Linked DNA regions of Homo sapiens. The protein of the gene in region 2 interacts with the protein of the main gene of each other region in a biochemical or structural test. Each region holds a gene or a part of one and is shown on either strand. Other genes may lie near its edges. The genes, in order: TRIM63, THRA, C1D and TRIP11.

Region 1 (7,037 bases), on a different chromosome or scaffold from region 2:
TCTAGGAAGACACTGACCTTTTGATGAGTTGCTTGGCAGTCTGCAGGGGGAGAGAGAACAAAGGATTAGGACCGCAGAAGAGGTAACCGCAGGAAATCAGCAAAACTAGTGAACTAGGTGTTGTAGGTAGATATTTGGTGCCATTCCCTAGCCCAGTTGTGACCTGCTCCCCACCCCAAACTGAGCAGAATCTGGAACTTTTCCCTCTGTCTGTGGTCTGTACAGGTCTTGGTCATCACCCTAGGACCCACTGTCTTGACAGGAAGCTTGGATTCTAGGGGTATCAATCCCAAAACTCCTAAACCCTGAACTCCCCAATCCTAACCACCTTTTCATACCTAATGTCTAGCAAAAAGCCTGGCCCACAGTAGAAGCCTAGAACATTTTTATTGAACTGAACTATGAAGTCTTATAACTGAGCCTTTTCTGTCCTCCCCAACAAGCTCTTTGAGGGCAGGGCTGTGTCTGGTTTATCTCCTTGTCTTCCACCTCAGTGCCTGGCCTACAGTAGGGGCTCAATTAATAGTCTGTAGATGGGACACTGTATTTTGCAGCTTACAAAGTCATTTCATAAACATCCTCTTATCTTATCATCATAAAATCAGTAAGAGGAAGGTGGGGGGTGTTACATGCCCATTTGACAGATGAGGAAACTGAGGCTCACAGAGGTTTAAATGGCTTTTCCAAGGGCCCATGGGTGGTCAGTGGGGAAGCATAACTTGAACCTTAGAGCTGTAGAGTTGAACTGACCCCACCCAGACCCTTCTAGTCCTGCTCACCAAGAGGAAGGTGGCTCCCCCAGGCTCGTCCAGGGACTGGATGGCAGTTTCCACCAGCTTTGTGGACTTGTCCAGCTGCTCCTGGTACTGCTGGATGAGGGCCTCGATGAAGCTAAGCTTTTTCTCCTGCTCCTGCGTGATCCGCTGCAGCAACTCACTTTTCTTCTCATCCAGGATGGCATACAACGTGTCAAACTTCTGGCTCAGCTCTTCCTTTACCTGGTGACTGTTCTCCTGAGGACGGAAGTCTTGTGGTCACGTTCTGTAGGGTCTTTATTCCCTGCCCACTACACTGCCTTCCTAGGACAGTAGCAAGGAATCTAAAGCTAGAAGAGATCTCACTACATACATCCCCACACTACAGAAGAAGAAACAAAGACTTAACAAGAAGAAAACACTCATCTGGCCTCACAGCTATTTAGTACGCCAGTGATATTTGGAGGATGATGCCTTGAAAAACAGCTAGCCCCTTCTTCCAAAATAGAGGCTCTAGGGTCACATGACACAACATGTTCTTCCTTGTTCCTGCACCCTCCCCCTGTCCCCCAACCTCAGCTGGTCATTGGAGCATCACCTCTTAGACCAATGCAACAGTCACCCAATGTGGGATCTGCCCTGTCTTTCTCTGTTGCCCTTTTTTTTTTTTTTTTTTTGAGATGGAGTCTCGCTCTGTTGCCCCCGCTGGAGTGCAGTGGTGCGATCTTGGCTCACTGCAACCTCCACCTCCCAGGTTCAAGCGATTCTCCTGCCTCAGCCTCCCGAGTAGCTGGGATTATAGATACGCTACCACGCCTGGCTATTTTTTTGTATTTTTAGTAGAGATGGGGTTTCACCATGTTGGCCAGGATGGTCTCGATCTCCTGACCTCATGATCCACCCAGCTTGACCTCCCAAAGTGCTGGGATTATAGGCATGAGCCACTGTGCCCAGCTCTCTGTTGCCTTTTAGCTGTGTTTCCCTTTTAGCTGTGTGACCTTCAACAAATTAACGTTTCCTGGGCCTCCCATATGTCCCAGTTCACACTCTTCCCTCCCTTTCAGGACCAAGACTGGATTCGGGAAGCTCTGCATCATTTGGTCCTAGGAGAGGTGGAAAAACAGCTCCTTTCCTAGCACCCTCCTCAACCGAAGCTCCCTTCTCTCTATGTTCTTTTCTATAAAATGGGTGTGACAATAGCATCTCATCAGACCGGGAGCCTCTCGTGGGTGATCACAATGTTCCCCTCCTTCCTACCCTTCGCCCAACTCTTCATCCACTAGCAATTATGATGACCCCTTCCCCTCATCTCATCTCCAGATCCCTACCCCAAGTGAACATGGAAAATCGTGGAAGCTTTTTTCAGGGATAGAAAAGTTCCCTTCTGCCCTCAACAGTCTCACTACTCAACATGTGGTCTGTGGACCCAGCAGCTTGGGCAAATCCTGGGAACTGGCTAGAAATGCAGCTCTTATGCCTCATTCCAAACCAACTGAATCAAAACCTGAATTTCAACATGATCCCAGCGTAATTTTCACGCACTTCAAAGTTTGGGAAGTGTTGGTCTACAGCACACTGAAGAACTGTGCTCTGAAAACAATTTGTGCTGAATAAATACTGAGAATTATTGATGGGACACTCCCTGAGCTCAGGGACCACGTCTGTCTGGTTCACTCCTCCATCCCCCACATCTTGGGTGGGGCCGGACACACAGCTGTGCTTAAGAAGCATTTGTTGAGAGACTGGATGAATGGATTAGTCCCTCCCCTGCCATCCCTGCTTGACCGCCCCAGGCTCCGGGCCCCAACCTTTAGCCACAACCTATGGGTGAGCCTTCCCCAGAGACCAGGCTGCCCTGGAAAGCTCCAAATCCCCAGGCAGGACTATTCTGTCCGCTCACCTTGGTCACTCGACGGGAATCCTCCAGCTGAGTGATGATGGTCTGCACACGGTCATTCCCCGCCACCAGCATGGAGATACAGTTATTCAGTTCAGTCTAGATGGGGGTGTGGGGGTCAGGAGAGGAGAGACACAAATAGCCTCAGGGCCTACCCACTGGGGCATGGCAGCAACATGGCTTCCTCCCTCCCCTCTCTGCTAGAAAGAGCCTCCAGTAGGGATCTGGCCCCTCTTTCGGGTATAGCTCAGCTCCAGAGTAGAGGATATTAGAAAGATACTGCATCCCTTATTTTACAGGTGAGGCCAACAGCAGGCAAGTGAGCTGCCCAAAACACACAGCAAGGAACTGACAGAGGAGGGGCTTGTTTCTAAGAAAGAAGGGACAAAAAAAGAAATAGAGTTGGAGACGTCTAGAAGAGAGAGACCTAGAGAAGAGTGGGGAGTAGGGAAGAGAGAGTATGGAAAGGGGGTGGCTACGGCTTACTGCACGGACAGGGTGGTGGGCCCTCACAGGCCCAGGGACCCAGGGAGAAGGCTCTAAGCTGCCTCCTGCTGTGGGGGAATGTGAAGTCTTGGAGAAGAGGTGAGAGGCACAGGAAGAGGTGTCTGGGGGATGGAGAAGCCGTGGCCTGAGAGGACCCCAGTGGCCTGGCTGGGGCGTCTGACCGCTCCCCTGTGGCCACACCCAGGTGCTCTCGAGTGGCTCTAAGTATAACCATGAGCTCAGCTGCCTCCCCTAGGAAGGCCAGGGCTGCTGTCCCTGTGGCCTGGGAAGTCCCTCCAGAGAGACTATTCCTGAAAGGCCAGATCAGCAGATCTACAGGGATCAAATCTGCCTCCTGAATCATCAGGCCGTGCCCAGCAGGCCCAGGCTGGGGGTAAAAGTGGCTGGAGACAGTACCTTTTGTCCCTGGAAGACACTCTGCAATGGGGCCACCTCGCAGGCCTTGTGGATCCCAAACACCTTGCACATGGAGCAGGTGGGCACCTCACACGTGAGACAGTAGATGTTGATTTTCTCATCTTCGTGCTCCTTGCACATGGGGTGACTGCCCTTCTGCAGCGGCCGACTGCAGTGGAGAACAGTCACAAGTCATGGGGGTCCTGTGTCCCTGCATCCCCCTCCCCAGCTCCAATGCACCAGTCGCAGCTACTGGGGAGGCTGAGGCAGGAGGATTGCTCAGCCCAGGAATTCGAGGCTGCAGTGTGTCTGTGAATCTCCAGATTTATGCCCTGGGCCCTCAGTGTTTGGCTGCCCTAAAATCTTTCATCTTCTGGGGACCAAGGACTTGGGAAGCCAATGACACCAAATCTGTCCCCACATCCTAAGAGGGAGTTAGCCTGAGGCTCTGCCAGTGCCAAGGACACAGAAAGGGCCATAGAATTCCAGAGTCAGACCTGGAGATGTTTTAGAGAAGAGGAAACTGGGCTCCAGAAAAGTGAATTGACTCGTCCAAGGTCATACAGCAAGTAAGGGCAGAGGAGCCTAGAGTTCAGTTGCTCTAATTATAGTCACCTTAGCTTTGGTTACTGCAGGCTGGGCTCTGAGCTGAGAAATTTATACTGATGGCCTCATTTAATTCTATATTTAATCTACCAGACTGTAACCTCCATCAAGGTAGGGAAACTTGCCTGTTTTCTTCACCCCTGTGCCTACACTGTACAGTGCCTGGCATAGAGGAGGTGGTAATTAAACAAAGGTAGAAAGAATAAATCAATAAGGCTGGGCGCAGTGGCTCACGCCTGTAATCCCAGCACTTTGGGAGGCCGAGGTGGGAGAGTCACCTGAGGTCAGGAGTTCAAGACCAGCTTGACCAATATGATGAAACCCCGTCTCTACTAAAAACTCAAAAAAATTAACCAGGCATGGTGGCATGCACCTGTAATCCCAGCTACTCGGGAGGCTGAGGCAGGAGAATCACTTGAAACCAGGAGGCAGAGGTTGCGGTGAGCCGAGATCGCACCATTGCACTCCAGCCTGGGCAACAAGAGCAAAACTCCGTCTCAAAAAAAAAAAAAAAGAAAGAAAGAAAGAAAGAATAAATTAATAACTAGCATAGGAATCAATAATATTCACCATCTTGAATTTATTAACATTCTCCATAAGAAAACAATTTTTTTAAAAAAGAATATTCACCACAGAGTCAGTCATACCCTCTCTCTTTCTCTTAGCTTCACCACTTTCTAGCTGTATGGCCTTGGATAAACCTCTGACCCTCTCTGAGCCATGAGGTTGCCCCTGAGGCTCAGAGAAGGAGCAGTGTGTATGCCCCATGTCATGGTGACTGGTGAGTGGGTAGCCCAGGGCTGTCCAACAGCCCAGCACAAGCCTGACTTCTAGTCCAGAGATTCTTTCAAAGGCCCAAGTCTCTTCCTCTACTTTCTCCCCTAACACATATGCTTAGAACTACCTTTCTTCCTTGAGACCTCCAACCTGTTATTTGTGCTTCTCTTGGGACATCAGTCATTTCCTAACCTAGATTCATTGGGGCCTGGGGGGGATTTTTTTGTTGTTGTGTTGTTCTGTTTTGATTTTTTGCCCAGGCTGGAGTGCAGTGGTGTGATCTTAGCTCACTGCAAACTCCACCTCCTGAGTTTCTGATGCCTCAGCCTCCTGAGTAGCTGAGATTACAGACGTGCACCACCATGCCCAGCTAATTTTTGTATTTTTTAGTAGAGATGGGGTTTCACCATGTTGGGCAGGCTGGTCTCAAACTCCTGGCCTCATGTGATCCACCCACCTCAGCCTCCCAAAGTGCTGGGATTACAGGCGTGATCCACAGCACCCAGCCTTTGTTTGTTTGTTTGTTTGTTTGTTTGTTTTGAGACAGGGTCTCACCATATTGTCCAGGCTGGAGTGCAGCAGCGATTCACAGATACACTGCAGCCTCGAACTCCTGGGCTGAGCAATCCTCCTACCTCAGTCTCCCCAGTAGCTGCAACTGGTGCATACCACCATGCCTGGTGTAGATTCGATTTTTTGAGTCTTCTGTCTCCGGCTAGACTATACACTCATTGAAAGCCAACACTACCTTCGATTCCCAGCCCCAAACAGAACAGGCATCTTGCAAATGTCAAATGGTGACTGTTCCCATCAGTGTCAATGCCTCACCTCCAAACAGCCTTACATGACTGATCACACCCTGGGCTCTATTGTCCTCTGAAGTTCTTAAATATGCCCCTTTCCAGGCTTGTCTTTTTGCATAGTTTACCCCAGGGTCCCTATGCTGGCAGGGGTCTGCCATTGCCACCTGCCTCCATCCCCTGATAAAGGGATGGCAGGGAGTGCAGAGGTGAGGCAAGAGCCTGAGGGTCTGGTTCATGCGCCCGCAGCCCTCCCAGATGCCCACCCTCCCAAGCTCAGACTTTGGCATCGGGGTTCATATCCAGATTGTTCTCTTACATTCATTTTTGTGATTTTGGACTAGTGATTTCACCTCTCTTGCCTGTGGGATTCCTCCCAGAACTACTGCAATCTGTCTGTAGAAATTGTCTATAATGAATGTAGAGTGCCCGGCACAGAGCAGACCCTCAATAGAGGGCAGCTGTCATTGTCATTCAACTATGCGGAAAGGCCTCAAAGGTTCACATATAACATGCTCTTCATAGGTCGGCACTGGGTAGGCTAACATTGGTGTGGAATTGATTTTATTATTCCTTATGATCAACAATATGTTTGCATTTTGTAGTGTTGTGCTCTAGCAACATGAGAGGCAATCTAGCTCAGCAATTAAGAATATTCACCGGCCGGCCAGGCGCGGTGGCCCACGCCTGTAATGCCAGAACTTTGGGAGGCCAAGGCGGGCGCATTACCTGAGGTCAGAAGTTCAAGACCAGCCCGGCCAACGTGGTGAAACCCTGTCTCTACAAAAAATACAAAAATTAGCTGGGTGTGGTGGTGCACGTCTGTAATCCCAGCACTTTGGGAGGCTGAGGCGGGCAGATCACCTGAGGTCAGGAGTTTGAGACCAGCCTGGCCAACATGGTGAAACCCTGTCTCTACTAAAAATATAATAATTAGCTGGGCACGTTGGCACGCATCTGTAGTCCCTGCTACTCGGGAAGCTGAGGCTGGGGAATCACTTGAACCGAGGAGGTGGAGGTTGCAGTGAGCCAAGATCGTACCACTGCCCTCTAGCCTGGGCAACAGACCAAGACTCTGCCTCAAAAAAAAAAATTAAAAAAATAAAAAATATTCTCACACCCTCTCTCTCTTAGCTCTACCACTTGCTAGCTGTGTGGGCTTGGACAAATCTCTGATCCTCTCTGAGCTTCCATTTCCTCATGGTAAAATGGAGACAGGAATGCCTTCCCGGGTTACTATGAGAAGCAGATAGGAAAAATGCCTGAAAGTACTTAGAACAGCGCCTGCACACAATAGGT
Region 2 (6,575 bases):
CTGAGGAAGGGAAGGTGGTCTTACGGGATGGGAGGTGACCAGCCCTGCTGAGCCCACGCTCCCAGCTTTCAGGCACCTCCTGCTCTTGGGGCAGAGGCCTGGGAGAAGGTATGGCACTCCTTCTCCTTCCCCATCGGCCTTCTGGGGGGCTTCAGGGAGAGGCTGCATTGCCTGCCAGGTCCTCGCAGACCTCCGGTTCCTCCTCAGAGGAGCTCGGGGAGTCCGCCTCACTGCTGTCGTCTTCCCCACAGACCGCTCGGGCATGGAGAATTCCGCTTCGGTGGAGCAGCTCCAGGAGACGCTGCTGCGGGCTCTTCGGGCTCTGGTGCTGAAGAACCGGCCCTTGGAGACTTCCCGCTTCACCAAGCTGCTGCTCAAGCTGCCGGACCTGCGGACCCTGAACAACATGCATTCCGAGAAGCTGCTGTCCTTCCGGGTGGACGCCCAGTGACCCGCCCGGCCGGCCTTCTGCCGCTGCCCCCTTGTACAGAATCGAACTCTGCACTTCTCTCTCCTTTACGAGACGAAAAGGAAAAGCAAACCAGAATCTTATTTATATTGTTATAAAATATTCCAAGATGAGCCTCTGGCCCCCTGAGCCTTCTTGTAAATACCTGCCTCCCTCCCCCATCACCGAACTTCCCCTCCTCCCCTATTTAAACCACTCTGTCTCCCCCACAACCCTCCCCTGGCCCTCTGATTTGTTCTGTTCCTGTCTCAAATCCAATAGTTCACAGCTGAGCTGGCTTCTGTGGTGTGTGCTCGTTTGGGGGGTGGGGTGGAAATACTGCCAAGGCTGGGGGGGGCCACCTCTCCATCTGGTCAGTTTGTGGGGTGGGTACTCTGCCAGCAGATGGGAGGATATAGGGAAACAGCACACAAGTCTAAGGGGGGTGCCCAAGGGGGTTATTTTCATCATATATTTATTACATAAATATATAGTAAAATAGACGAGCAACAATTACCATAAAAATATCTTTCTTTAAAATCCTGACCCAAAACACAACGGGGTGAAAAATCGCACATAACAGACATACTGATTGTCAACGTGGGGCAGGAGTAGGAGCCCCTCAAGTCACCCCTGCCGGTCCCACCCCTCCCTGGGGAAGAGACCTACCTCCTTCCCTGTTTCTGGCCACAACCCCCCTCCCCCCAGCCCAGCACCAGCTTCTCATACATTCAGTAGCGCCTCTGGGCAGTGTCCCCCTCCCCCCCGCCCAGGAGTTCCCAGGGCAGGAGTTACTGTCCTCCTTATGGACGGTCTCTCTCTCACAACGCCCTGCCCTCTCCCAGCCCTGCAGACCCGCCACCAGGAGAAGGGGTAGGGGCTCCTCCCCCACCCTCCCCAAGTCTGAGCAGGGAGGAGGCTGGATGAGGTATGTGTGTTATGAGTGATGGGAGGGGCAATACTGAGATGGAGAGGCGGGTGGTGGGGGCGGGGTAGTGGTCATGGCTCTGGCAACCCCTTGTCCTGGCCTGGCCCCCTCGTCCTATTCCCAGCAACCCGTCCTCCCACCGATACTGCACCTGCTGCTCCACCCTGCCTGCCCTAGTGCCCCGGGCCAATACTGGGGGAGGCATGCTGAGCACCCACATCAAGGCCATCCCCCTCATTAGCACCAATGGCCCCCAGGAGAGGGCCCTGTCCCCCACTTCCACAGCAGGGACTGGGACAGCTGCCGCTCTAGAGCAGGTGCGTGGCACTCCTGAGTCGCCCTGGCTCCTCCCCTACCATGTGTACTCACTCACACATTCACGCAGAGGAACGCACACATACACCCCACATCACCGAGGGGGAAGGGAGGGGTCCGGGGAGGATGGGATCACAGCTCATATGATTGGGGAGGGTGGGGGAGTCCCAAGTGCCTATAAGAGGCTAAGGCTCTTCAAGGCCTTTTCTCTGCCGTGTCCATGGCTGAGAATGGGGATGGAGGGGTTGGGGTGGGGATGGAGGGATGGGGAAGACAGCAGACAGGTCAGGAATTCCACTGGGCCCCCAGGCGTGGTAGGAAGGTACAAGAGGGCCTACCCATGGGACTGGAGTAATACAGGATTCAGTACTCCAGGAGAGAGAGAGAGGATAGAGACAAAGACAGCGCGGGCAGCCCGAGGCCCCAGCAGGGTGGGACAGGCACATGCACAGGTGACAGCGGGTGCTCCTCCAGGCCCTCCACCCCTGTTGGAACACCTGAACGATTGGGGAAGGACAGTGCCCTGACGGGCAGCATAGCATTGCCTTCCCATGTCCGTGTGTGCATGTCCGTGTGTGTGTGTGTGTGTGTGTGTGTGTGTGTGTGTGTGTAGGGGGCTGTGGCAGGCTGAGGGTCAGGGTGGGGTGGCAGGTTCCCCACTGCTTAAGACATTTTTGCCCCAATAGTGCAAAGCGCAGGAAGCCCTGGCACCCCTCCCCCCACCCCCTGCCCCAATCCCCATGGCTTCCGGGGGCATCTGTGTCCACCCATCCATCCCTGCCGACATGCAGCCCTGAGCCCAGCACCCTCTGGTCTGCTCTGTCCCACCCCACCTCCTGCTCCCATGGGAGGACCACCTCCTCTCTCCCTCTCTCCCCTGAGGAGTGGGCGGCAGCCACAGGGAGGGGGAGGAGGACAGCTCACCCAAGTGCAGACCAACAGAGCACCCTCACCAGGAGGGCGAGAGGGGCTCAAGCCAAAGTCCCTGAATTAGAGAAAAGAAGAGGGGAAGGGGTCCCGGGGCAGAGGGGCAGCTGGCCAAAAGAGCTTTAAAGAAAAAGGAGCACCGACCACCCCTCCCCTGGGGCCCCAACTAAGTGTCACTTATCTAAACACCCCCATTCTGGTACCTGCCCGCCCAGAGTTAGTGCAGTGAGTAGGAGCTGGGGAGGAGGGCAGAGGTTAGAGAGAGCCCAGAAGACAGATGGGAAACAGGGAAACAGAGTGCTAAAGGGGTGGAGGGTTCTGGGAGACGCTCACGCACAGCCCTCCTACCCCCGACCCAACCAATGCAGCAGCATCCGGTTTCTAGCTAATACTGCAGGATATAAGGAGGGTAGGAGTTGGAGCCACAGTTTTTTCCTGGGTGGGTGCCAAGGTGTGGAAGGAGGAGGTGGATGGGGAGAGGCCCCTAGGGCTGGGCACTTAAAGGGGAGCTGTGTGGGCAGCAGGGCAGGCTGGTGAGGGGCCAGCTGGCATCCAGCATGAGAGGTAGATGGAACTCAGCGGGCACGAGTGGCAGAAAGCAGAGGACATACTAGGGTTGGGGGGTGCCAAAGGGGCACAGAGGGCGGGGTATGGCAAGGGGGGTGGCCAGGACCCTGTTGTGTTAACTCACAGCTCTGATCGGCAGCCCTACCCTTGGGGCTCTGGTGTGGGGGCATTTCTCTCTGATGTGGGGGAAGAAGGGGCAGCTCGCAAAGTGCATGGGGTGGTAAAGGGGGGGTCCTCCCCTCTGGTCAGCCTCAGTTAATAACTTAATATCATCTCTCTCTATCGCTCGCTCTCTCTTTTTTGTATTTTTCTCTCTGTCTAGTTTTTCTTCATTTGTCTTCTCCCCTTGCTTGGTTTCCAAAGTGCAGTTAGAATGACTATAAATTTTAACCTCCAGAGGAGGAGCCAAGCCAAGCCGTTCTTTGCACCCAGGCATCTGGGGAAGTAGAGAGGCCCTCAGCCTGGAGGGGAGACCTAGGCCAAGGAACTGGGTGGGGGCTCTCTCTCATGTGTGTGTAGGGGGTGAGTTGAGGGCATCTTCCCCCAGCCCACATTCCTCCTTCCCCTACGGTCAAGGTGGCTTGTCCCTTCTCAATCCTCCCGCCCTTCCCCTACCTTCTGAGAGGATGGGGTCCTGGGAACTGCAGGACACAGCTCCCCCAGCCTCCCACACTGTCCTTTCCATAGCAAGTTCAGTTGTTTGCCCTGTCCCAGGGCTGGAGGTCTGAGGAGGGACCTGGGCAGTGCGGGTGTGTGTGTGGGAGCTGAATCTATCCAAGGACGAGAGGAAGGAGAGAAGGGGTGTGGGGGGGTCTCCCTCAGCCCCCAGCTCTGCCCCTTCTCTCCAGGCTCCTCCCCACCAGCTCCGCACACCCTCTGGCCGCCTGAGGCTTTAGACTTCCTGATCCTCAAAGACCTCGAGGAAGAGTGGGGGGAAGAGTTCGGTGGGGCACTCGACTTTCATGTGGAGGAAGCGGCTGGCGTGGCAGGCCCCGATCATGCGGAGGTCAGTCACCTTCATCAGCAGCTTGGGCCAGAAGTGCGGAATGTTGTGTTTGCGGTGGTTGACGTAGTGCTCGAACGCCAGCAGGTACGCCTCCTGACTCTTCTCGATCTTGTCCACACACAGCAGGCCCGAGCGGTCTGTGAGGGAAGAGGGGCGTGAGGGGCGAGGGGCTGGCCGAAGGCCTGGAGATGGGGAGGGTGAGGTGTGGGGACGTGGGAAGAAAGGACTAGAGGGGAGATAGAGGCAGAGAGGCTGGGGGAGGGGAGGGGAGAAGCTCCCCCTGAGAGACGTGGACAGGAGAAGCACAGGGAGAGGGAGGCAGCTGGGAAGTGGAGAGGGGCAGGGGGGTACTGGGGGGAGGGGGCAATGCAAGGAGGACAGAGGGACAGGCCGGGGGCTGGGGGAGAGAGAGGAGCCTTGGAGTGGGGAGGACTGAGGTTGGTGGTCAGAGAGGCGGGGTGCAGATGGGGTTAGGGAGGGGACTGAGGGGTAAGAGATGGGACTGGGAGACAGAGGAGGGATGAGGGGATGGAAGGTGGCTGAGAACAAAGTGGGGAGTGGGGAACAAAGGGGAATGTGAGTGACAGAGGGACAGGGCAGCGAGAAGGAAGGAGACAAAGACAGGAAAAGGCACAGAGCAGGGATGGGGAGGCAAGGGATGGGCCTGGGGAACGAGTGAGAAGTGTGTGACAGAGCAAGGAACAGGGGATAGGGGATGGCCCAGGTGACAGAGAGGTAGCCCAGAAGAAGATTCAGGAGGGAGTTGAGCAACAGGCCCAGGGTCCAGCCAATCTCTGGGACCCCTGGAAGCTTCTGAGCCCTCCCGACTAATCAGCAGGTACCTGTTGACATTAGCAGCACAGCCTGCAGCAGAGCCACTTCCGTGTCATCCAGGTTAAAGGCAGAGAGTGACTTGCCCAGTTCAAAGATGGCGTCGGAGACTACGCCCAGGCCGCCATTCTTGAGCTGCTCCCGCTTGACAGCCATCTCCCCACTCAGCGTCAGGGTGTCGCTCTCAGGGTCGTAGCGGACAGCCGCCCGCAGGGACATGATCTCCATGCAGCACCCCTTCAGGAGGATGATCTGGTCTTCGCAAGGCAGCTGTGGAGCGGCAGGGCCACAGGAGCACTCAGCATACCCCTCCCCGCGTCCTTGAGTCTCCCCTAGAGTGTCCTACGGGAGCCGTGAGGCCCGCAAGGCCCCCATGGACTCTGAACGGCTGACCTTGTATTGGGCCATGTGCATGCCCTATTCCATTTAAGCCTCACAGTTATGCCTGTGAGGCCCGGCGCAGTGGCTCACGACTATAATGCCAGCACTATGGGAGGCCAAGGCGGGTGGATCACTTGAGGTCAGGAGTTCGAGACCAGCCTGGCCAACATACATGGTGAAACCCATCTCTACTAAAAATACAAAATTAGTTGGGCGTGGTGGCACATGCCTGTAGTCCCAGCTACTCAGGAGGCTAAGGCAGGAGAATTGCTTGAACTCAGGAGGCGGAGGTTGCAGTGAGCCCAGATCGCGTCACTGCACTCCAGCCTGGGTGACAGAACGAAAATCTGTCTCAAAAAAGAAAAAAAAATTATGCCTGTGAGTTAGCACCCATCATTATCCCCAGCCCACTCCAGATGGGAACACTGAGGCACAGGGGATGGAGGTAACTTACCCCAGGTCACATGGCTAGTAGGGCAGCCTGTCTCCAGCACTAGTGCTCTGGAAAATGAGAACTTTCAGGCTGCCTGGAGTTGGGTGGCCGCATAGACTTGAAGGATGAGGGGCTGTGGAGGGGAGCACTTGGAGCCGGCTGATTTCTTAGAGCAGCCAGACCTTGGCGTGTGTCTGTATGCTGTGTGTGTGTGCCTGTGTGTTTGTGTGTGTGTCTGTATGTATCTATGTGTGTGTCTGCTAGGTGTGTGTGTGTGTGTGTGCCTGTGTGCTGGGTGTGTCTGTGTGTGTGTGTCTGTGTGCTAGGTGTGTGTCTATGTATCTGTGTGTCTGTGTGCTAGGTGTATATGTCTGTGTGTGTGTGTGTGTCTGTATCTGTGTGTGTGTGTCTATGTATCTGTGTGGCTGTGTGCTAGGTGTGTGTGTGTGTGTGCCTGTGTGCTGGGTGTGTGTCTGTGTGTGTGTGTGTGTCTGTGTGCTGGGTGTATATGTCTGTGTGTGTTTCTATGTATCTGTGTGTGTGTTTGTGTACTAGGTGTGTGTGTGTCTGTGTGCTGGGTGTATGTGTGTGTGTATGTGTGTCTGTGTACGTATCTGTATGCTAGGTGTGTGTGTGTGTCCGTGTATGTGTCTGCATGTGTGCCTGTGTGCTGGGTGTATGTGTATGCATGTGTGTGTGTGTGTCTGTGTATGTTATCTGTGTATGTTGACCTACAGGA
Region 3 (7,037 bases), on a different chromosome or scaffold from region 2:
AAACCTCACAGATGAATAAACTGAGCCAAAAGAAGTTAAAGAACATGCCTAAAGTTGTACATGTTAAAATTTCCAAAGAAGAAAAGAACTCACCCAGCTCTGCTCCTCACCCTCCTCCGGGGTTCTATAGGTACTCCTTGCCCTTCCACATACTCCTTCTAAAACACTGGCTGCAGAGGTAGAGACAGACGGAGAGGGCATGAGAAAACTTGCTTCTCTTCACCACTCAGTAAGGTGTGGCTGAGACTGAGTACCTGGGTTGCGGGGATGCTGCCCAGTAACCCTAACAGATGTTACTGCCACTCAGTCCTTCCTCTCACTGGTTATACAGAAGCCAAAGTACCGATAGGAGAAAACAAGAGTGCATAGCATCACATACAGAACTGAAGTCATCAGCTACCTCTTTCCTTTAATTCTCCACTTCAGGGTGGCCAATCCAGGCAGAAACCTGGGAGGCACCCCAAATCCAATCAGTCCTGTCAATATGGCTCCCTTAATCTCCTTACACCACAAGCTTTCCTCTATTCTCACTGACTAGATTATTTCAACAGCCTTTGAGTAGTGTCCCTATTATCAATTTTTCTCCACTCCCAGTTTTAGAATATTACAAAATATGCTTTAAACAGTCTGGTCATGGTACTCCTCTGTTTAAAATTCTGCAACAGTTCCCTCCCACATGGAAGACAGTTCCAAACCCCTCAGCGTAGATGCAAGGCCCATTATGATGTGGCCCTTGCTTGTCTGCCTAACCTCATCTTTCATGGCTCCCCTCTTCCAATCCTAGAGCTGTGGCCATGATGGCAGTTTTCCAAATGTGCCGTGCTCTCTCACTCTCAACTTTCACCTGTGTGATTCTCTAAGCCTGAAATGCCCTTCCAACTCCACTTTTTTCAAACGCTGCTTATCTTTGGAGGTAAAAAATAGGTTCCAGTTCGGCCAGTGAAGACTTCTCTGCATGCTCTCCTTCTATGCTCTCTGTCTGGACAAATACAACAACTATAAGCTGTCATGTCACTTAAAACACTATCTCTTAATGTATTTTTATTTACTTGACTTCTCCTTTGACTACATGCTCCTTGAGGGGCTGTGTCATATTCATGTTGTATCCCCAGTGGCTGACACACAAGGTGACTATAACTCTCAATTTGCCCAAGACAGTTCCACCTTACGCCTGTTGTTTCAGCTTGCCATCAACTCAGCTCCTTTCTTTCTCAGAAGTCCCAGTTTGAACAAAAAATTATATGGCTACCCTAAACAATGCAAGTTCTCTGACCCTTACTACCGCTTCCCATCCCATTTAGCTGGAGAACAGAAGCATCAGAGGAGTTACCCTTTGCACCAGTCAGGTTTCAACTAGAGAAGCAGAACCAGTAGGAGATATATATTAAGAGAGTTATGGCAAGAAACTGGTTTACATAGGGCAGGCTATGAAGGGAGGAACTCATGCTGGAACTCTTGGCTACTAGCTGAAACTGCTGTCTACAAGTGGAATTTCTTCTTTTTTGGAAGGAAAACCTCAGCTCTGCTTCTAAAGCCTTTCAACTGATTGAATCAGGCCCACCCAGATGATCTAGAATAATCTCCCTTACTTAATTGATTATGGATTTTAATCATAGCTTCAAAATACTTTCACAGCAACACCTACATTCATGTTTGACTAAATATCTGGGGGCTACAGCCAAACCAAGTTGAAACATTAAAAAGACAATCACAGCCAGGCACCATGGCTCACATCTGTAATTCCAACACTTTGGGAGACTGACAGGAGGATCACTTGAGCCCAGGAGTTCAAGATCAACCTGGGAAACACAGACAGACCCATCTCTAAAAAAAAAAAAAATATTTTTAATTAGCTGGGCGTGATGGCATACACCAGTAGTCCTAGCTACTCAGGAGGCTGAGGTGAGAGAATCACTTGAGTCTAGGAGTTCGAGGCTGCAGTAAGTTATGATTACACTACTGCACTCCAGCCTGGGCAACAGAGCAAGGCCCACATCCTTTCTTTTTTTTTTAAAAAAAAAAAAAAGACTATTGCACTAAGATGCATTCCTAGCATCAAAAATATTGTTGCTCTGACAATACTTTCCCACAACAAGCTTATTTTGATTATCAGGTTCCCAAGTAACAGAACTAGACTTCAAATTCTAGCTAACAAATGTAGAAGAAATGACAACTTAAAAAAGAATCACGACTTTGCAACGCCTAATGAAATTGTAGGTTTAGTCAATGACCACCAACAGATCACTAAAAGTAGGTGAAATGCACATATTATGAACCTCCTGATGTGAGGCAATATAACATACACAGCACCATCTGCAAAGCATTCCCAACTCCCAAAAAAGCTGAATCTGAACAATTAAGCCTACAGAGCTAACTTCCATTTTATAGGAAATCCAAAGGATAGAGGAACAAATTAACACCACAAGAAAGCAAACAAATATGGAGTGAGAAATACAGTACTCTACAGGATAACTGACCAGGTTTCCATAACAAGTCAACAGCATGAAGCAAAAAAAAAAAAGTGGGGGAAGAAAGACAGAGGAAGAAGAGATTTAAGAGATGTAACAACCAAATGAAATACACAGACCTTGTTTGGATCTTGATTCAAATAAACCAAGTGGAAAAAGATAGTTCTGTGAGAAAGAAATCTGAACATGGACAAAGTACTAGATGACACCAACAAATTATTGATAATTCTGTCATCTATGATAATAGCAATACAGTTATATAAGAAAATTTCCCTGTCTTTTGAGGATGCACACTGAAGTATAGAGGGGTAAAATTATGTAACATTTTGAATTTGCTTAAAAAAAAAGTAGCCTCCACAAATTATTACAACTTTGAGAGCAAAGATAAGAACCTATGTACATTATTTCTATAGTGAAATTAGATGGCTAACTCACAAACTAGCTTTTAGAATACAACTCCGTTCATATATAGGAGAATAACTAAAGAGAAGGTGTCGTCTAGAATATTTAAGCAGCTCCATTACATCTCATTTCAATTCCAAATATAACTGGAGTGAGGGAGAGGAAGGTTACTGGGTGCTCACTACATCTGTGATAGTTGCTGAACATATAGTCTCAAATGAAGTTTGTATTACTAACATTTCCAACAAAAGGCTCACATTCTAGAGTGTCTATTTATTTCAAGAGTATCACAAAAATCCTTTTGAGACAGAGTCTTGCTGTCTCGCCCAAGCTGGAGTGCAGTGGCTCAATCTCAGCTCAACGCAACCTCTGCCTCCCAAGTTCAAGCAATTCTCCTGCCTTTTACAGGTGCGTGCCACCATGCCCAGCTAATTTTTGTATTTTTTTAGGAGAGACGGGGTTTCACCATGTTGGCCAGGCTGTCTCGAAATCCTGACCTTGTGATCTGCCCACCTCAGCCTCCCAAAGTGCTGAGATTACAGGTGTGAGCCATCGAGCCCAGCAAATTCCCTTCTTTAAAAAAAAAATCCTAATTTCTTGTATTTTTACCTGGCCCTTAAAAATGCAGGCAAAATAAACAAATAAACAAACACCCAAGACTAATGTCAAATAAAAAACTAAAAAAAGACATATGCAACACAAAGATTTTTTTAAAGCCTCTATGAATCAATTTAACAATAACAAAAAAAGTACACACAACCCAAAAGAAAAATAAACAAGAAAATCAACAGTTCACAAATAATCCAGATGACCAATAAGCATAAAGAAAGCTACTCAGCCTTACTGATAATTAAGGAAACATAAATCGCTAAAATATGATGCCATTTTCATCTGTCAAATAGGGAAAAATTAAAAAGATTAATAGTACTAAAATGGACAAAGGTGAGCTGAGAACAGCCTCCCATTCACTATTAGTCAGGGTATAAATTAGTTTAGCATTTTTGTGAGGTAATCTGCACTATGCTTCAAAATCACATATGTACACATGCTTTGACCTAGCAATTTTACTTCTCAAAGTATATTTTAGCGCAAGATAATGTTTAAGGACTTCCACTGCAATGATCTTTAAAACAGTAAACTTTAAAACAGAACAACCCACACATCCATTATTAGAACCTGGTTAAATAAATTATGATATGCCCACCTATTAAAATACTCTGCAGTAGTGAAAAGGTACGAGGTACAGCTTAGAAAGATTCCTAAGATATATTAAGTGAACAAAAGTTGAAGAACAGCATGTATAATACATCCTATTTATTTATTTATTTATTTGAGTCAAAGTTTCGTTCTTGTTGCCCAGGTTGGAGTGCAGTGGTGCGATCTCAACTCACTGCAACCTCCCCTACTGGGTTCAAGTGATTCTCCTGCCTCAGCCTCCCAAGTAGCTGGGATTACAGGCGTCCACCACACCTTGCTATTTTTTTTTTTTTCGTATTTTTAGTAGAGATGAGGTTTCACCATGTTGGCCAGGCTGGTCTCAAACTCCTGATCTCAGGTGATCTGCCTGCCTCAGCCTCCCACAGTGCTGGGATTAGAGGCGTGAGCCACCACGCCCAGCTCATCCCATTTATTTTGAAGAAAAAAAGATATATGAATGTGGAGGCATATTTGTATGGTATATGCATGTAAGTTTTCTTAAAGGATCCAAAAGAAGCTGTTAACTGTGGTCACTTCTGGGAAACAAAAAGCAAGAAAGTGAGGAAGTACATTTTGTTACACTCTCTGAATTACAATTTTTAAAGAATAAAATATGTAACATATTATAATAATACTTAAGTTTATAAATAAAAACTTCGATCATCTCAAATTTTGAAATTTACTTTATTCTCAAACATACCAGATAAAAATGTCATTTCCCCCTACTTAGCAGCAACAACTAAACCTATATTCTTTACCACTGTTACATTCAAAGAACCATATAAATGTGTTTTCTACACCTAAATTGTCTAGCCACCAGGCGGCTATTTTCCTCTATTCTCATGGTACAAAAGCCTCCTCTGGCCTGCTTGCTACATGGCCATACCTCCCAGTCAACTGGTTTAAAGATGCTTTTGCAAGTTCTCATCTTCTCTTTCTGCCCCCAGCCAACCATTCTAGCTCTAGGCCTACTGAACATTCATTCCTAACGAAATTCACAAAAGACATAAATTAATGCTACCCAACTGCAACAGGTCCTCTGTCAGTTGCCTGACAGTTCCTTTATTTATCCCTGATACCTCCTCAGCACTTATTGCAAAATGTCATGTAAATGAGTAATATTTACTGAGCATTTACCACATGCCAGACACTAAGGACTCTCTTATTCAATAGATATTTAATTAGCCTCCATGATAGGCAGCCCTGATACTTGGAAGATAATAGTGAGCAAAAACTTGCCTGCTCTGCACTTACTGTTTAGTGTGGATGATAGACATTAATCAAAGAATCACAGAAATATAAAATTACAACAGTAATATGAAGAAATAAATCATGCTATGAGACTATAAACTAGTGTACATGACAATCTGAGGGAAGACAGAAAGCTTCCTCAAGAAAGCACTCGATGACAGAGATGAATTAAGCAGACAAAAACTGTAGTGCGGGCAGAGAGAGTTCTCACAACTCTACGACTGGGCACTAATATTAGCTTCACTTTACAGATGGCACAACAGAAACAGGTCACAGGGCTGGTAAGTGGTAAAGTTCGGCAGAATGGAACTCAAATCGAATGGAGGAGGAACATCCCTCACAAATCCCATCAGTGGATTTGTGTGGGATGCTCTCTGGACAAAATCTTTAATACAACATATAAGGTTTGTTCCTCCCTGAAAATCTATTCCTCTAACCCTTCCAGCCTTAACTCCCATCTTTACCCTATTCCCCAACATCACACTCAACTTCTGTTCCTGTCACTACTCCACGTGACTAGAATCTCCGATTTCCTTAGCAACATTCAGCAGGCCTGGAGCTACCGAACATGGGGCATTAGCAAGTGGCCACAGAGGAAAGAGGACTGACAAAAGCATCTTTAAAACAGCTAACTGGGAGATGTGACCATGAAGGAAGGGAATTGAGGTCCTGTCATAGTCCTTTCCCTCTACTTGGAATACCCGTGTTCCTCCGTTTTGCATTGCTATGCAGGAATACCTGAGGCTGGGTAATTTATAAAGAAAAGAGGTTAGATTTGGCTCCCAGTTCTGCAGGCTACACAAGAAGCATAGTGTCAGCATCTGCTTTTGGTGAGATAAAGGGGGAGCAGGCATGTGACAGGGCAGGAGAAGTGGCAAGAGAAAGAGGAGCTTCCATGTTCTTTTAAACAACCGGCTCTAGGAGTGAACTAATAGAGTGAGAACTCAACTCATTACCTCAAGGACAAACCAAGACATTCAATCTGCCTCCATGACCCAAATATCTCCCACTAGGCCTACCTCCAACACTGGAAGTGACATTTCAACAAGAGATTTGGAGGAGACACATACCCAAATCATATCAACCTCCTCTTCATAACAGTCTCCATTTTCTTGGCCTAGTGAAACTTATCAATCCTTTAAAACCCACCTCAAATGCTCCCTCCTCTATAAAGGTGTCCATACCTCCCAAACAAAAGTGGTCTCTTCTTCCTCTGCTCCCAAGGTTCTCTGAATATAACTGTAATACAGTTATCACACTGGTGTGCAACTATCTGCTTGACTTAACATTATCACATATCTATCAATAACACTCCTTAAGTTCTTGATAAATCCAAAGGTGTCAATCTTCATTTCACCTGATCCATCAGCTGCACCTGACAAAACTGAACATACTACTCTACTGTAAATTCTACAACACCAGACTCAAAATTGTCCTTGTCCCTCACTGGCTGCTCAGTCTGTCTCATTTGGTGGTTATTCCTCATTTTCCCAACTTGTTAAAATGCCTAAGGACTCAGGCCTTGTGCCCCTTCTCTTTTCTGTCTACATTTACTCCTTTAACGACTGTCTCCGGTCTCACAACTTTAAATACCATCTGTTCACTGACAATTCCCAAACGTCTGTTTCCAGCAATGACCACTCTGAAGTCCAGAATGAACATATTCAACTGCCTACTCAACATCTCCACTTAGATGACTAACAGACATCAAAAACTTAT
Region 4 (7,000 bases), on a different chromosome or scaffold from region 2:
AGTGGCGGGCGCCTGTAGTCCCAGCTACTTGGGAGGCTGAGGCAGGAGAATGGCGTGAACCCGGGAGGCGGAGCTTGCAGTGAGCCTAGATCCCGCCACTGCACTCTGCACTCCAGCCTGGGCGACAGAGCGAGACTCCGTCTCAAAAAAAAAAAAAAAAAAAAAAGAATTGATGAGTGAATAATATATTTTTAAGAACAAAAAAGAAATATGGCTTTCAGATCAATTAGTCATTCAACAGGAAAATACTTCACTCTGCATTATTTTGTGACAAGGACTTAAACCATTTCATTTTGCTAAGCAGATACATGACAGTATTCTTTTTTTATTTTTATTTTTTATTTTTTTTGAGAGTCTCGCTCTTGTTGCCCAGGCTGGAGTGCAATGGTGGGATCTTGGCTCACCGCAACCTCTACCTCCCAGGTTCAAGTGATTCTCCTGCCTCAGCCTCCCAAGTAGCTGGGATTACAGGCATGTGCCACCACGCCCAGCGAATTTTGTATTTTTAGTAGAGACAGGGTTTCTCCATGTTGGTCAGGCTGGTCTCGAACTCAGGTGATCCACCCACCTCGGCCTCCCAAAGTGCTGGGATTACAGGCGTGAGCCACCATGCCTGGCCATGTGACAGTATTCTTTCATCATGTATATTTGTACACCAACATTTACTTGATATGTTCATATGTAGAAGGCTGAAAGCAGGTGTGTACACAAAGGCAACTGGGAGGAAACAGATGACACAGAAATGAAAAAAACTCAGTGGACTGATCATTCTAATTGGCATTTATAAATCTAAGAATAAACATGCTTTTGAAATTATAGAGCAAAGATGACAGCCATCATCTCTTCAATAAAATCATGAGCCATTAAAATTTTCAAAAGTATTGCTTTTAATGACACAATCAAGAACCAGGCTGGGCATGTGGCTCATGCCTGTAATCCCAGCACTTTCAGAGGCCAAGGTGGAAAGACTGCTTGAAGCCAGGAGTTTGAGACCAGCCTGGGCAACAGAGCAAGACATCGTCTCTACAAAAAATTTTATTTATTTATTTATTTTTTTATTTACTTACTTACTTACTTATTTATTGGAGATGGAGTCTTGCTTAGGCTGGAGTGCAATGGTACGATCTTGGCTCACTGCAACCTCCACATCCCGGGTTCAAGTGATTCTCCTGCCTCAGCCTCCCAAGTAGCTGGGATTACAGGCGCCCACCACCATATCCAGCTAATTTTTGTATTTTTAGTAGAGACAGGGTTTCACCATGTTGACCAAGCTGACCTCAAGTGATCTGCCCACCTCAGCCTCCCAAAGTGCTGGGATTACAGGCATGAGCCACCGTGCCTGGCCTATTACAAAAAAATCTTTAAAAATTAGCTGGGTGCGGTGTTGCATGCCTGTGGTACCAGCTACTCAAGAGGCTGAAGCAGAAGGATCACTTGAGCCCAGAAGTTCAAGGTTGCAGTGAGCTATGACTGTGCCACTGTATTCCAGCCTGGGCAAAAAAGCAAGACCATGTCTCAAAGCAACAACCACAACGAAAAGAACTAGAAGTAATAATAACCTGAAATCTATTAGAGAGGTAACTGAACTTTGGAATCAATATTTTACAAGATAAAGATATTCCAGGTTATACAATTAAGGGTTAAAAAGCAGTTCACTGAATTCAAAGAACATTGCTTATTTTGAGTCTTTATGCTTTCAAAACCAGAAAAAAATTAAATAAAAATTTGGATTTGCTGTATTTAAATTATTAAAATGTCTTTTTCTTTTTTTGATACAAGGTCTCACTCTGTTGCCCGGGCTGGAATACAGTGGCAGGATCACAGCTCACCGCAGCCTTGACTTCCTGGGCCCTAAGATCAGGTGATCCTCCCACCTCAGCCTCACAAGTAGCTGGGACTACAGACACCCACCACCACACCTTGACTAATTTTTTTATCTTTATTTTTTGTAACCGGTCTCAAACTCCTGGCCTCAAGCCATCCTCCCACCTCCACCTCCCAAAGCGCTGAGATTACAGGCATGAGCCACTGCGCCCAATCTAGACCCTAATAATGAATAAAACATTAAAATTAATTTGCTATTCCTGTATCCTTTTTTTCTTTTTTTGGATGGAGTTTTTCTCTGTCACTCAGGCTGGAATGCAATGGCGTGATCTCGGCTCAGTGCAACCTCCGCCTCCCAGTTTCCAGCAAGTCTCCTGCCTCAGCCTCCTGAGTAGCTGGGATTACAGGTGTGCACCACCACATCCAGCTAATTTTTTTGTATTTTTAGTTAGAGATGGGGTTTCACCATGTTGTCCAGGCTTGTCTCAAACTCCTGATCTCAAGTGATCCACCCACCTCGGCTTCCCAAAGTGCTCAGATTACAGACATGAGCCACTGTGCCTGGCTGCTATTCCTATATTCTTAACTTTTTTGTATCCAAATATTATTATCATTTTAGTGTTTAAAAAGCTCCAGGTTAAACAGAATTGCATTCTTAATATTATACTTAGCTGGGCGTGGTGGCTCACGCCTGTAATCCCAGCACTTTGGGAGGCTAAGGCGGGTGAATCACGAGGTCAGGAGTTTGAGACCAGCCTGGCCAATGTGGTGAAACCCTGTCTCTACTAAAAATACAAAAATTAGCTGGGTGTGGTAGCGTGCACCTGTAGTCCCAGCTACTCGGGGGGCTGAGGCAGAAGAATTGCTTGAACCCAGGAGGTGGAGGTTGTAGTGAGCCAAGATAGTGCCACTGCACTCCAGCCTGGGTGACAGAGTGAGACCCCGTTTCAAAAAAAAAAAAAAAAAATTATTCTTAAATAAATGTGCCACTGCAATTTAGTATGCTGTTAGAACACAGTAAACTCTGGATTATGATAAATTATTGATACTATTATTTCTACATTTGGCAGTTTTCCTACTTATACAGAAATAGAGATGGGAATATTAAAGAATAGCAAACTGCAGTAACAGGTAAATATATTTTTCATCTACAGAAGGTTGATAAAAGCTCAAAAAACAATCAAAATTAAACAAGAAGAGAAAAAAAGTGCTAAGCAGTACATTTAAAAAGAAAGGATCAAAGTAATGTTTGAGTAACCTTCATGACTTCAAAAAAGAAAAATCTAAGTAGTCTTTGATTTTTCTTACCTCTGATCTCAAGATTGCATGAATGGCTTCAATTTCCTTTGTCCTAGAATCAGGTAATTCTGCTACAAGAGAAATAACAAATATTGAATATTTAATCAATACCATATGAAGTAATAAATAGGTATTTTCAAGAAAATATATTTCACTGAGTTTACACAGAATAGTAGGCTGATATGAAAGCATTCAGAAGAAACAAATCGCTTTATTTCCATAACAACTTTTCACTGACACTAATGTTCTTCATTGTCATAAAAGTCATTCTTTTTGCCTATGCCCTGTATCTTAGGATGTCTACCTTTACCCCTTAGAAATGTTCATTAGAATTTTGTTGTGGGAAATTAAGCTTTAGAAATTAAAACTATTTCTCTGTGGGCTAATGCTGCTATAATTTTAGATGAAGCTTACTCAACTGGGGCTTTAGGCCTTATTTCTAACTGTAAGAATTAAAGAAAGAGGAGAGAAACACAAAGGGTGGCTTGCCAGTTAAGACAGGTTTATTTTAGAGAAAACAAACCTGAGAGGGGTGTTCGGCTGAGTTAGGTTAGAGGCACACTCTTTTCCAGACTAAGAGTTTTTAAGGATTTAGGGTGGGAGAATTTATTAGAGGCTTAGACTGCTTCTGTGTTTTTTTGTAGTGCTTATCTGGGAGGGAGAGTTGTGTATTTGTTCCATTTATTCTAGAGCTGCAGGCATACCCCCCGAGTCTGCTTTAGCTTCCCTATTTTAGTGCACCTGAAGGGAAAGGAATGTGCTTTCTAAGGCCCACTGCTTTACTGGGGCCCACTGTATGAGAGTGAAGTTTGGCAGTTACCCAAGAGACTTTACCCCCACCTCCCTTTGTGCCCGAGCACTCCCTCTGTATGTGTTTTACTGTCTGCTTTTTCTGGCTGCTTGTAGTTAGAAGAGAAGTGACTTCCTTGAAATGCATGAGGCTAGAAAGGGAGCTGGAGGTCAGGTACGGTGGCTCACCGCCTGTAATCCCAGCACTTTGGGAGGCCAAGGTGGGCGGATCACGTGAGATCGGGAGTTTGAGACCAGCCTGGCCAACAGGTAAAACCTCGTCTCTACTAAAAATACAAAAATTAGCCGGGTGTGGTGGCACACGCCTGTAATCCCAGCTACTCAGGAGGCTGAGGCAGGAGAATTGCTTGAACCTGGGAGGTGGAGGTTGCAGTGAGCCGACACTGTGCTACTGCACTCCAGCCTGGGTTACAGAGTGAGACTCTTGTCTCCAAAAAAAAAAAAGGAAAGGGAGCTGGAACTTAAAGTGGCACTGTTTGTCTGAGATAACAACAGTGCTCCTGCTCTGTCACTAACTTCTGCTCTCAATACTATCAAATAATAAGTGACCTATAAACGAAGAAAAATACACTGAGAACACTTATTTAAAGTAACATAGACACAATTTATTAAAAATGGGAATGAGCTCAGTCTGGTTTTCTACATTTTCATCTTTATTTTTTAATTTTCTTGGAAAGGGTCTCACTTCACTCTGCCACCTAGGCTGGAGTATAGTGGTGTGATCATGGCTCACTGTAGCCTCAAACTCTCTCGCTTCAGCCTTCCAAGTAGTTGGAACTACAGGCACATGCGACCACACCTACCTAATTTTTTTACTTTTTTGGAGAGATGAGGTTTCACTGTGTTGCCCAGGCAGGTCTCGAACTCCTAGCCTTAGGGAATCCTCCACACTCAGCCTCCCAAAGTGCTGGGATTACAAGTGTAAGTCACCATGCATGGCCCTTGGTTTTGTACATTTTCATTTAAAAGTAGAGTGAGAGCCCAGCAGTGTCAACATGGCACCACTAATGCTGTTAGAAAATCATCATCTGGCTGGTCTCGGTGGCTCATGCCTGTAATCCCAGCACTTTGGGAGGCCAAGGCAGGTGGATCACTTGAGGTCAGGAGTTCAAGACAACCCTGGCCAATATGGCAAAACTCCATCTCTACTAAAAATACAAAAAAAAAAAAACTGGCCAGTCATGGTGGTAGGTGCCTATAATCTGTAATCCCACCTACTTAGGAGGCTGAGGCAGGAGAAATTGCTTGAACTGGGGAGGCAGAAGCTGCAGTGAGCCAAGATCGTGCCACTGCACTCCAGCCTGGGCGACAGAGCAAGACTCGGTCTCAAAAAAAAGAAAAGAAAAGAAAATCATCATCCAGAGTTAGATTTTTTTTCTAAGTACTAGTATTTTTTTCATTACTCACAGCTCTTTAATATAAAAATAACTTATCTGGACTACAGTTTATTAGGAGTGTCCAATCTTTTGGCTTCCCTGGGCCATACTGGAAGAACTGTCTTGGGCCATACATAAAATACACTAACAATCGCTAATGAGCTTTAAAAAAAAAAAAATCGCAAAAAACCTCATTTTTTATTTATTTATTTATTTATTTTTTTTTTGAGACAGAGTCTCGCTCTGTCGCCCAGGCTGGAGTGTAGTGGCACAATCTCAGCTCGCTGCAACCTCTGCCTCCTGGGTTCAAGTGATTCTCCCACCTCAGCCTCCCCAGTAGCTGGGACTATAGGCCTGCGCCACCATGCCCGGCTAATTTTTGTATTTTTTAGTAAAGAGACGAGGTTTCACCATGTTGGCCAGGCTGGCCTTAAACTCTTGACCTCAGGTGATCCTGAGGCCCTCCTCAAAGTGCTCCCAAAGGGCTGGGATTACAGGTGTGAGCCACCGCGCCCAGCCAGAAAAACTCATAACATTTTAAGCACGTTTATGAATTTGTGTTGGGTCTCATTCAAAACCCATCCTGGGCCACATGTGGCCTGCAGACCACAGGTTGGACAAGCTTGGTTTAAATCAAAAGAAGCATGCAGTAATTACAGTGACAAACACTCTTGTTTAGAAAATCACCAGGTAGGGTTACATCTGTGGTTGGTTGTACATCTTGCTTGAAACTATGAAAGGACTGTTTAATTGCTACTCTGAAGAGGACAAGTTATAATCTAATTTGTTTAGGAAGGTAATTGTTAAAAGCAGCAACTATTTTAAAGAGGGATTTTACAAGTCCATGCAAACTCCACACCTCCCCCAACAAGAAAAACTTGGCCTTTTTAAGTACAAAGGGGAGATATTATGCAGACAAAAATATTCTGACTTTGTCAATAAGGGCAAATATGACATTTACCATTCATTAATGTTTACGATTCGGTAGACACAATTCCAGGCATTTTACACTCATGATTTCATTTAATCCTCTCAACCTCACAATAGGTATGATTATCCCTATTCAACATATAAGGAAACTGTGCTTTTGGAGGTTAATTTCTAATAATTTGCCAAAAATCCCACAACTTGTAATGCACAAAAGCAGAATTTCAACCCATGTCTCTCTGATTTAAAAGCCCAAGCTCCTAACCTTGAATAAATCAGTAGTGTTAGGTAAAACTGCAACCTTCTGATATTGTAAATATGGATGGCTTTCAAGTTGTCCACATAGTGCTATTTTGGAACTGTTTTATTTTTCATTACTGACACAGGGTAAACACTAATAAATACTTGTTCAATGAATAAAAGAACTGTACTCTGACCCTCCATTCCCTTTATTTTTTTAGACAGGGTCGTCTCTGTCACCCAGGCTGGAGTTCAGTGGTGCAATCGCAGCTCACTGGAGCCTTTAACTACTGGGCTCAAGCAAACCTCCCATTTCAGCCTCCCAAGTAGGTGAGACTACAGGCACATGCAGCCATGCCCAGCTAAAAACTTTTTGTAGAGATGAGATCTCCCTATGTTGCCCAGGCTAGTCCTCAACTCCTGGCTTTAAGCTATCCTCCCACTTTAGCCTCCCAAAATGCTGAGATTACAGGTATGAACCACACCTGGCCAGACCCCTATTTTTAAAAATTTACAAAATCAAT

The links.
Region 1: the proteins of THRA (region 2) and TRIM63 form a complex in vitro, tested with the Homo sapiens proteins (one study listed by BioGRID).
Region 3: the proteins of THRA (region 2) and C1D form a complex in vitro, tested with the Homo sapiens proteins (one study listed by BioGRID).
Region 4: the proteins of THRA (region 2) and TRIP11 form a complex in vitro, tested with the Homo sapiens proteins (one study listed by BioGRID).

What each region holds. Positions count from the first base shown.
Region 1 is NC_000001.11:26,057,611-26,064,647, forward strand, and holds part of TRIM63 (E3 ubiquitin-protein ligase TRIM63), read right to left. Parts: intron 3,725-7,037; coding exon 3,556-3,724; intron 2,752-3,555; coding exon 2,656-2,751; intron 1,014-2,655; coding exon 780-1,013; intron 41-779; coding exon 18-40; intron 1-17. UniProt on the Homo sapiens protein: E3 ubiquitin ligase. Mediates the ubiquitination and subsequent proteasomal degradation of CKM, GMEB1 and HIBADH.
Region 2 is NC_000017.11:40,086,959-40,093,533, reverse strand, and holds the end of THRA (thyroid hormone receptor alpha), read right to left. Parts: intron 5,293-6,575; coding exon 5,034-5,292; intron 4,329-5,033; coding exon 4,078-4,328; 3' UTR 532-4,077; downstream 1-531. Other genes in the region: NR1D1 (nuclear receptor subfamily 1 group D member 1), read left to right, coding at 252-451.
Region 3 is NC_000002.12:68,052,968-68,060,004, forward strand, and holds part of C1D (nuclear nucleic acid-binding protein C1D), read right to left. Parts: intron 171-7,037; exon of another isoform or gene 94-170; intron 1-93. UniProt on the Homo sapiens protein: Plays a role in the recruitment of the RNA exosome complex to pre-rRNA to mediate the 3'-5' end processing of the 5.8S rRNA; this function may include MPHOSPH6.
Region 4 is NC_000014.9:92,030,060-92,037,059, forward strand, and holds part of TRIP11 (thyroid receptor-interacting protein 11), read right to left. Parts: intron 3,195-7,000; coding exon 3,133-3,194; intron 1-3,132.